Regions from separate parts of the Homo sapiens genome. Here region 1 is linked to region 2. Evidence: fine-mapped expression QTL. Tissue or cell type: whole blood. Region 2 holds a variant in brackets; the other region holds the start of a gene. All regions are shown on one strand. Distances are from middle to middle.

Region 1 (5,373 bases), 79 kb after region 2:
TTTGTTTTTAATAAAAGCTAACTTGTGGTGACAAGCACACACAAGAAAAGTGGGTTTTTCTTTAGCAGAAACCACTTAGCAAGTTAGGCTAGCCTCTGAAGAGCCTAGCCACAACACTCCTCACACCAAACACAAAATAGACACACAACAGTTGCCTCCTCCTCCCTCCTCTATCTTTAGGGGTAATGATTTACCATGACACTCAAATGCTGTTATTGCAGTGGTACTTCCATAAACTGGACATGCATAACAACTATTGTATTTAGGTCACAAACTCACAAAAGAAAAGTCCATCCTGAAAGTAAGTTGACAACTATGTCATCATATAAATAACCTAAACTTCCATGAAAACTCAAAGACCCCTAACATGAGGACTTGCTTGTTCCCAGCATTCCTTGGAGAGGCAGAATATCCCCATTTTAAGGGTAGGAAAATTGAGGAATAAGTACTGAATTTACCAGTCTTTGTTGAGATAAGGAAATGTAATAGCATAAATTTTGCTAGGAAATGCATATTATGGTTTTGTAAGAAAGTCTAACCCATGGTCCAAGAAGCCCAGATTCTTACCTATTAATGGCATGAAAGGCTTTCTGAGATGATGCTATTGTTCTCTCAGAAAAAGAAGAGTAACACTCTTAAGTCATTCTGGTTTCCCTTAGTAACTCTTTCTTAAATAGCCGTGAATGTTATCTACACCGTTTATAGCTTGTTCTTCTTCTCAAACTGGTATACCACTTCTAAGGTCAGAATTTTATCATGTTCCCTAAAAACTATTATCAGAACTTCTCGTCTGCCCCAAATTGATTTTTAAGAAATAATTTAAGGCATTTCTTAAAATTCTGAAATTTGGTGGAAAAGCTCATGTTCGCCTATCCAAATCCTTCATGAATGTAAGCGTCTTCATCCACAGCCTTCCTACACCATTTCTCTTTCCTGAAGGCAAGTAGTATGGGTCAGTGGAACCGCAGCCTCGAGGCAGAGGCGAGATTTCAGCCTCTTAAGACCTGCAGCTCTGGACAAGTCACTGAACTTCTCTGGACCTCCAAGGGCTCAGAAAAAAATGAAAACATTGAACAGGACGTTCCGAATGTTCTCATCCAGATCTGAAACACTTTTTTTCTTTTCTTTTTTTTTTTGACACGAGTCTCGCTCTGTCGCCCAGGCTGGAGTGCAGCGGCGCAATCTTGGCTCACTGCAACCTCTGCCTCCTGGGTTCAAGCGATTCTCCGGCCTCAGCCTCCCGAGTAGCTGGGAATACAAGTACTTGCCACCACGTCCGGCTAATTTTTGTATTTTTAGTATATGCAGGGTTTCACCATGTTGGCCAGGCTGGTCTTGAACTCCTGACTTTAGGTGATCCGCCCGCCTCGGCCTCCCAAAGTGCTGGGATTACCGGCGTGAGTCACCACGCCCGGCCATACTTTTTCTTTTAACCTGTTCTATCATGTTAAGATACCTTTTGCTGTGCTCTTTCTTCAACTCTACTGTGTTTCTTAGCTGAAGACCTCATGAGTAGGCTGTGTTCCAAAACAAAAAGCACCTTATGACTTGGTATGGTGGTTTTCATTATGGAACTGAAGCTACTTTTGACAGACTCATCTTGCATCAAGTTCTCCCTGAGACATACGGGAGGGGAAATGGGTGGGGTGTGTATGGCACAGGAATAGCCACAGTTAAGTGGCTGAGGAGGCCAGAACAAGTACATGCTGGTTCCCTATTCCATCTATTTCCCTGTGTCTGAAATTCTCCAAAATACAAAGTTAAAAAAGAAAAGAAAAGCACATCTCTTTCAAAGAGAGAAGTATATTTGATTGGCATTATTACAGGATTTTGTCTGGAGACTTTGGTATGGTATAACTGCTCTTCACACCATTTCCCTTGGATTGAGATAGAATCTACAAGACATGAAACTAAGGAGAGCTCCTCAAAGTTCAGCCAAAATTAAGGAAAATGAACCAAAAACAAAATTCCTCAAATGACCTCAAGGTTATCCATGAGAAGATCCATGGTAATACTTGGCAGAGGATGGAACTTATTTCCATCGTGCTACACCGTATGTCTCCTATAAGCTATTTTCTGCAACTTCTGAACAGCTAAACTTCAGCCCTCTGTGACATGGAAAGCGAGGAAATAAACAAGCCCCACTGGGAGAAGGATGCCTCAGAGGGTGCTGAAATAAAAAAGGAAAGGCAAGGGATTTCAGGAGTTAAGAAATCCTAAAGAAAAATGGGAGCATGCATTTGGAGAAGGAGAGGGTAAAGACATGCATCTTACGGCAGCCAGAGAACACAGGAAGGGGAATGACAGGGGAAGGCGCTTCCTGGTGCTCCAACGCCCAGCAGCCCTCGCCACCCACATCCCCGGACTCCCGGGGCGGGAGGGCTGCGCACACCTGGGACTTGGGGGAGGCGAGGGGCTCCGAGGAGCCGGGCTCGGAGAGCAGGCGAGCGGAGAGGCGGGCGGCCGGGGTTCGGGGCGGGCGCGGACCGTTCCATCCCGGACGGGGGGCACCCGCTCCACCCGCCGGGGATCCCCGGGGCGCGGCGATGGTGCCTCCTGACGCCGGCGCAGCGTCGCCGGGGCGTCCCAGACCGCAGGCCCCGCGCGGCCGCCCAAGCCCGGCTCCCACGTCCCGCTCTCGGCTCCCCGGAGGTCGGAGACTTTGAGGTAAGGGGCCAGCTCCCTCCTACTCACCGACCGCGAGGCTAGGCAGCTCCAAATCCCGCGGCGACCGCTCCCTCCCGCCCTTGCCGCCGCCGCGGGCCCAAGCTGCGTCAGGACGTGCGCGCGCCCGCCTTTGTCTGCGCCGCCCAACGTGACCCTGCGCCCACCGCCCCGCACGCTCCCGTCGGGCGCGCGCGGGCCGGCAGGGCGGGGGCCTAGGGAGAGGCGGGTGCCGCGTGGACCGGTCGCGGGTTGGGCGACCCGCGGAGTCGCCCTCTGGCGGACTAGGGGGCACTGCCGGGGGCGGGGCGGGGCAGGAGCAGGAGAGGCCGGGCCCTGGCTGTCCCTCCGCTGGCGCGTCCCTCTCAGAAAGCGGAGCGCTTCCCTGCGTTAGGACCCGATACTGGCTCCCTCCCCGGAGGTTCGCTTGTGTGTTCCGGAGAGGGTGAAATCAGGCTGGCACCGCGGGAAGAGGCTAGAGTCACTAAATCACCTTGTCCTCTTGAGGCTGCTGTCCGTATGCAGCGACATTCTGCCCGTTAGAGGACTCAGCTCAGGGCCTGGTACGCTCAAGATCTGTTAGCTACCAGCACCATCACCACGACCACCGTCATCACCAGCAGTATCCCTCAGCCTCGTCTACCTTGCTCGTCAAGCAGGGTGCTCCAGGAGTGGGTGTAGGCCACTTTCGCCCTGCCTGGCAGATGCAACTTTCCAACTTCCACCTCCACTTGGACCTGCTCTCTCTACTCAAGTCTAGCTGGTGGCTGCTGGAGTTTGCGTGTGTGTTTCTTACTATATCTTCTGACTTCGGACGCCTAACCCAAGCTTATTATCTCCCCTAAAATGGGACCTCCTTAAAATATATATTACCTTTCTTTTTCCTGTTCTTAAAAGACAGTTTGCCTTTAGTGCCAAGCCCTCTCCGCCGGTTTACGCTGTACACGGCTGTCAGATTGTCATTCCGTGCTAAATGCATAATCTGATAATGAAATCTTTAAAGTCCACATTCTTAGACCTCAAAATCTCTGTAAGAATAAAGGGCAGAGTATGGTAGTTCACGCCAGTAATCCCAGCGTTTTGGGAGGCCAAAGCAGGAGGATCGCTTGAGGCCAGGAGTTTGAGACTAGCCGGGGCAACGTAACGAGACCCCCACTTCTACAAAAATTTTGAAAATTAAAAAAAAATGGTGGGGGGAGCGGGGCGCGGGTAGCTCACGCCTGTAATCCCAGCACTTTGGGAGGCAGAGGCGGACAGATCACTTAAGGCCAGGAGTTTGAGACCAGCCTGGCCAACATGGTGAAACCCCGTCTCTACTAAAAATACAAAATTTAGCCGGGGGTGATGGCACGCACCTGTAATCCCAGCTACTCGGGAGGCTGAGACAGGAGAATTGCATGAACCCAGGAGGCAGATGTTGCAGTGAACTGAGATTGTGGCACTATACTCCAGCCTGTGTGACAGAGCGAGACCCAAACTCAAAAAAAAAAAAAAAAAAAAGAATAACCACTTAGCTCCAAAACACTGGACTACTTATCTCCACCAAATATAACTAAATGTTACCCATTTGGAACTGATCACGTATTTATTAACTCAATCACTTATCCATTCATTGAGCCCTTGTTACTCGCCCAGCTTTTTTGGGGATCCCAATTCAAGATTGAGTAATGCATGGCCACGTCTAATCGTCAACGACATTAAATTCCATAAGAGAAGAAACCACCGGGCGCGGTGGCTCACCCCTGTAATCCCAGCACTTTGGGAGGCTGAGGCGGGGGAATCACGAGGTCAGGCATTCGAGACCAGCCTGACCAACATGGTGAAACCCCGTCTCTCCGTCTCTACTAAAAATACAAAAATTAGCCGGGCGTGGTGGTGCGCACCTGTAATCCCAGCTATTCGGGAGGCTGAGGCAGGAGACTTGCTTGAACCCAGGAGGCGGAGGTTGCAGTGAGTTGAGATCGCACCACTACACTCCAGCCTGGGCGACAGAGGGAGACTCCATCTCAGAAAAAAAAAAAAAAAAGAAGAAGAAACCAGACATCATACATTTTTGTGTTGTGTTCTCCACAGTGCTAGGGATAGGGATTTAAAGTGGCCACCAGGATCTCAACTGCTCTTTGGAGTCCTTCGTCTGGTCTCCTTTTCTGCCCCCAGAACCAGTCTTGGAAGTAGCCCACTCATCTGCTGTACTCTCTTTGTGTTCTCATGGTTATATTTTCTCACAATTCTTACCATCTACTAGTTCTTTGTACATAATATTGAAATCTTAAAATATTTCACACATATTAGAGGCTCAAGAGAAAATGGTGTTCTTTGCCCAAGCAAATAGTAGGCTCAATTGTTGGGTATTAACACTGATACACACACACACCTTGTGAGTGTGCACATTCACTGGCACATTCTCTAAACTTCTCAAGTGCAGGAAGGCAATCAAACTTCCCTCTGAGTGGGAAGCCAACATGAACTAGGTAAATATAGTTCCTGTAGGCACCAAAACTTTTATCACATTCATTTCTAGGTACAAGGAATGTAAATGGGCAGATGAAACAAGCAAGTCATGCTTGAAATGCTTGACACAAAGCAGACTTATCTTTAGAGAAGGCCTCCTGCCCATAGCATGACCGAGCTATAGCCAACACTGAACTTCTTGTCGCTGTGAATATGGGCTGTCTTTAGATTATTGTTGGCAGTATTTTCACATTCTAG
Region 2 (5,340 bases):
CCAACCTCAGGTGATTAAGGACCGGACCACACTAGCATGGGTGTCAGAAACACGGAGCAGCCTGGCTCTGGGACAGCACTTGGCCCTCTGTCAGTGACAGGCACAGGGACAAGTGTGAGGGTGGCAGGGGGGTGGGGCGGTGGGGCGAGAGCAGTGGTGAGGGAGAGGCGGAGAAAAGCTCCTGCCAAAGTCCCAGAGGGTTAGGGGACAGCATTAAATGCCCTACCCTCCCAACCAGGGCAAAGGCTACAGAGAAGACGGTTGAGGGCCCAAAGGCTTCCTAATTTACTATCCGCATCCCCGACAAGCATGTACAGTCGATCCTCATCATTCACGGATTCTGCATTTGCGAATTCGTCCACTCGCTAACATTTATCTGTAGCCCCAAAGCTGGCACTCACCGTGCTTTGGCTCATTCATGGACACACACACAAGGGCAGAAAGTTTGAGTCGCCCAACCCGTGCAATCCCAGCTGAGGATGAACAATGCCACACTCTGCCTCTGTGCCTCATACTATAAATAAGTGTCCTCCTTGCAGCTTGTGTAGTGCCACATTTTTCACATTTTTGGTTTCATTGTTTAGAATGGCCCCTGAGGGCAGTGCTGAAGTGCTGTCTGGTGCGAAGTGCAAGAAGGCTGGGATGTTCCTTAAGGAGGGAATGGACATCAGATAAGCTCTGCTCAGGGATGAGTTAGAGTGCTTGTGGTGGTGAAGTCAGTGTTAATGAGTCAACCCTATATATTACATAAGGCGTCTTGAAACAGAAACGCATTTAACACAAAGTTATGTATTCATCAGTTGACCAAAATATTGTGGCCAGAGGCTCATGGGAGCCTAACCTTGTATTTCCCTTAGGAGCAGTGGTTCAGTATTTGCTAATTCCGTGTTCACAGCGACTATTTATTTATTTATTTATTTATTTATTTATTTATTTATATTTTGAGAGGGAGTCTCGCTCTGTCGCCCAGGCTGGAGTGCAGTGGCACTATCTCGGCTCACTGCAACCTCCATCTCCCGGGTTCAAGTGATCTTCCTGCCTCAGCCTCCTGAGTAGCTGGGATTACAGGCATGTGCCACCACCCTTGGCTAATTTTTGTATTTTTAGTAGAGACGGGGTTTCACCATGTTGGTCAGGCTCGTCTCGAGCTCCTCACCTCAAGCAACCCGCCCTCCTCAGCCTCCCAAAGTGCTGGGATTACAGGCATGAGCCACTGTGCACAGCCTCAAACAGCGACTAATTTATAGAACAGAGCTATGGCAAATGGCTGTATTTGTTTCAGAGAGTGAAAGCTGGAGCTTGTGAGTCTAGAATCAAGGCCTCCTCCTGCTTCCAGGTTGTATGGCCTTAAGTCATTTAACCGCCCTAAGCTTCAGTCTCCTCAAGGGAGGATGAAAATGTCCCTTTCGAATGTGCTACACTTCAAGAAAAAGGTTTAGAAATAATAATGGTAACTGTGAGCACTGATGTGAAGAGAGTAAATAAGAACATATATGCTCTGGGACTCAAACAATTGCAGGTCTTGTTTGTAGTGTGACTCGGAGCAAGTCAAATGACTTCCCTAAGCCTCAGGTTCCTTAGCCATAAACTAGCAATAATGCCAGCATTTCCCTTGTAGGATGGTTATGATGGTTGCTGAGTTTATGTTTGTGAAAGGGCTGTCTAGGGCCGGGCATAGTGACTCATGCCTGTAATCCCAGCACTTTGGGAGGCTGAGGCAGGAGGATAATTTGAGATGAGCCTGGGCAATGTGGTAGGACCCTGTCTCTACAAAAAAAGTTTAAAAATTAGCTGGACATGGTGGCATACACCTGTAGTTCCAGTTTCTTGGGAAACTGAGGTGGGAGGATCGCTTGAGCCCAGGAGTTCAAGGCTGCAGTGAGCTATGATTATACCACTGCACGCTAGCCTGGGCAACAGGGCAAGACTCTGTCTCTAAATGAAATAAAAATAAAGAATGAAAGAGACTCTTTTCTAAGCTTTTGAAAGGTGAGGGGACCCAGGAGAAGAGGCCAGAACAATGCAGGAGTCCTGGGCAGAGTGAGGTGGCCTAGGTCCTCATCTCACCCCTGCTCTTGCCACTGTGCCTCTAGAGTCTCAGTTTACCAAGGGATGAAATGGGCAGTCATGCCAGCATGATCTCTGAGGTCTGAACTTTCTCTTCTGCTCAGTGCCTGGGCGGTAAAGTAGATGGGAGATCCTAGCCTGTCTTTCCCAGGCTGCATATTCCATGATGGTCTCTTATTTGAGGAGCACTTCTTGGGGCAGGCACCGTGGGGAGCACCAGGAGGCTGTTCTTGCCCTCAGTGTTTCTAATCTAGTCAGGGAAATATGCAGACATCAAAAAGCACAGATGGACAGAGACGGTAACATTTCTAGAGAGCCAAGTAATTGTTTGCATTCATACAATGCTAAGCACCTATGTGTCTTAGCTTTTTTAAACATCACACCTCTCTAATGGGTAGGCCCTATTACTGCCCTCATTTTACAGCAGAGAAAACTGACTCACAGAGCAGGTAAGGCACTTGACCGAGGTCAGGCAGCATGGGACTTGAACCCGGGTGGTCTGGCTCCAGAGTTCATGCTCTTACCCACTCGACTCTGCCATCTCCTGAACAGAAAAGGCAGCTTTTTTCTTTTTTGTATTTTGTATTTTTACAAAATACAAAAGGGAGAGCTTCCAGAGTGGAGAGGGGCCTGCTCCAGGAAGGATCAGGAAGGTTTTGTGGGGTGGAGGTGTTGAGGGCGGCAGGCAGAACCTCTGCAGAAAAGAGAATGGAAGGCAGCCTTGACAGAAGCGTGACCGAAGGCAGAGAACAGGAGGGTAGAGCGTGTTCAGAGGCTTAGAGGAGACAGTCAGACTTGGCCGATGTGATGGCCCAGCAGTGATGAAAGCATCTTCCCTCTACGGTGGCAGCACTGTCCACCCACTGCAGCAGCAGTTCCTGGCTTTACAGTTCTACAGCAGCCCCTGGCAAGGAACCTGGCACCACCCTCCCATCCCTGGGGAACCACCCAAGAGCTGAGTTCTCCCTACTCCCTTCCAACACTCCTCCC[C/G]AACCCCTTCACCTGGAGGACCCAAAACAGCTCTATGTCTGGGGATGGCTCCACCTCCGAATGAGCTCCTGCCTCCCTGTGTCACTTCCCACCCTGCCCAAGAGATTGTCACCTCCTCCTTATTGAAGCATCCTCCTTTCCCCAGTGGTCCCAGGGCCCCTGCAGATAGAACATGAGTGGCTGGTCTTGAAAACATGGAGTTTTCACCCCAGGTTGGAGGCTGGAGGCCCCATGGGGGCAGGAGAGGTTTCTCACTGCGAATCCCAGGCTGAAGAATGTGGGCTTAGTTCCTCCAGCAAAGCTGCTCTTTTCCAGCCTAAGACTCAATACAGGAGGAGGAGAGGAGGATGCATCTGCTTTTCAGAGATCTCTGTCCATCTGAGGGGCATGGGGAGAGCAGCCAGAGGCAGCGGTCAGGAAGTGCTGTGGGCCAGAGCTGAAGGGGAGCTGTCACCCTTGAGGCATGAGCTCCCAAGGCCAGGGAGCACATCCGCTCCATCCCTGGGTTCCCAAGGCTGGCGCATGGCGGACATCAGTGCATGTTGGCAGAGCTGAACTGAGAAAGTGAAGGCCTCACCTAGCCTCACCTAGCCCCTTCTTGGCACAAGCCCTGGCTCAAGAAAAATGGCTCTTCCTAAGTACAAGGATCTGCTGGGGGATGTCTCCCCAGGTGACCACGTAGGCACGGGGGCCTCTGCCCCTCTCCAAGGGCACAGAGCACAGTGCTCTCCTTGGCCCATACAGAGAGGCATCCTGGAACACTTGCACACTCAGAAGGAATTCATGAGGCCTGGGTGGCGGCTCTGAGGAACAGCCTCTGCATAGGGAGCAAGAGAAGGAGGGCGGCATCTCAGGAAGTCGGGCTGCAAGTGCAGCACCCTCAGCACATCGCCCTGCCTGGGGAGACTGCTTTTCCTGAGTCAGATTCGGCCTGAGCTGCCAGCACAAAACTCTGTGTGTGGGGTTTTTGCTGGACGTTGCACTTTTGCATTCTAAGTGACTCCTTCTCTCTTTGTGTCTCCCAGGATCACACCTCGACACCCAACCCCTGAACCCCACACACTCTGCCATGCACACAGGAGGAGAGCTGGACCTGAGGGCCACCGCAGCGGTGCACACATTCCTCTGGGCTGACGGCATGACCTCTGTAAGGGACTCCTGCTAGTCCCCTCTTGGCATGAATGACTGACTGTAGACGCATGACCTCCAGGCTTCAATCCTGCCTCTTGCAATGACAGCTGATCTGTCGGAACCAGGACACAAAAGCAGCAAGAAGCGGGGAGAGAGAGGGATAGAAAACAAGCGCAGGAGAGCCTGCGAACGCAAAAGTGAATGAGGGCTTTTTGTGGCTGGGGATGGGTTTTGGTTTTGGGGTTTTTTTTTTAAATTGTTTTGACTTCGTACAGGGTACTTTTTCCCAACCTCATCTGTCAGAAATCCATGTGGGCTTCCTGGAAAGAAAAAAAAAAAAAAGAAAACTAGGCATGAAATCAGTTTAACACCTTAATCTTAAGCCATGTCCTCATCTGCCCACCCTCCCCAACCCACATACCTCCATTCCACTTGTGACACCCCCTCGACTCCCTGGTGACGCTCCTCCCAGATCGCTCTACATGACATTCAGGACACACACACACACACACACACACCACTCGCCTCCACTGAATCTACACACAGATTTTACTGTGACTTCTGAAGCTGTATAGACTCTGCTGTGGATAAATTGGAATTTTTTATGTTGTCTCTCTCTCTGCCAATTTCAATACGAATCATCTTCCAATGGAAAATCATTACCTTGAAGAGTGCATTCGGGGTTCCTTGTGTTAGGGACTTAAGAATCTGAGGCGAGGACCCCCAGGCTTACCTGTAGGACTCAAAGGGAGCCAGGACCCCATCTGAAAGGGTCTCCTCTCTCAGTTGGGGGACAGGCCGGTGGCTGACCCAGGATTGCACCAGCATGTCCATAGAGAAGAGGTTTTCTATGTCTTCAAGCACTATATCATAGTCCGTGTTCAAAGTGTAAACTGTACAGTAATCAGCCTTGTGTATATGAAAAACAATAAATACTATGCAAACCAATAGAAACATTTAGCAGTACGTACAGAGCCTGACAGCGCAGCTCCTGAGGACTTCTGCGGCTGCAGGAGAAGGAGCTGTGGCCTGTCTTTCAGTGAAAGAGGAAGGAAAGGAGTAGGGCTAGTGAATGTATCTGCCAGGTCTTAGAAGTCAGGACCACCCAGGGTCTCCCAGAGTGAACTTGGTGCTCTAAGTCCAGGCAGCCTG

What was found.
Region 1: GPAT4 starts here. The variant in region 2 is fine-mapped to the expression of GPAT4 in whole blood (TOPMed, PIP above 0.99).

What each region holds. Positions count from the first base shown.
Region 1 is chr8:41,575,600-41,580,972 of GRCh38, reverse strand. It overlaps GPAT4 (glycerol-3-phosphate acyltransferase 4), which reads right to left and starts at 2,773. Exons shown (of 13, transcript NM_178819.4): 1 at 2,695-2,773. GPAT4-AS1 (GPAT4 and GINS4 antisense RNA 1) reads left to right here and starts at 2,605. Exons shown (of 3, transcript NR_125824.1): 1 at 2,605-2,667. RefSeq lists silencers at 2,267-2,406, 2,427-3,046.
Region 2 is chr8:41,654,496-41,659,835 of GRCh38, reverse strand. It overlaps ANK1 (ankyrin 1), which reads left to right. Exons shown (of 43, transcript NM_000037.4): 43 at 4,083-5,340. Among named protein-coding and RNA genes, the nearest start is that of MIR486-2, 3.3 kb to the left of the region's middle. RefSeq lists an enhancer at 3,349-3,882. The variant C/G (reference allele first, on the strand shown) is at 3,058.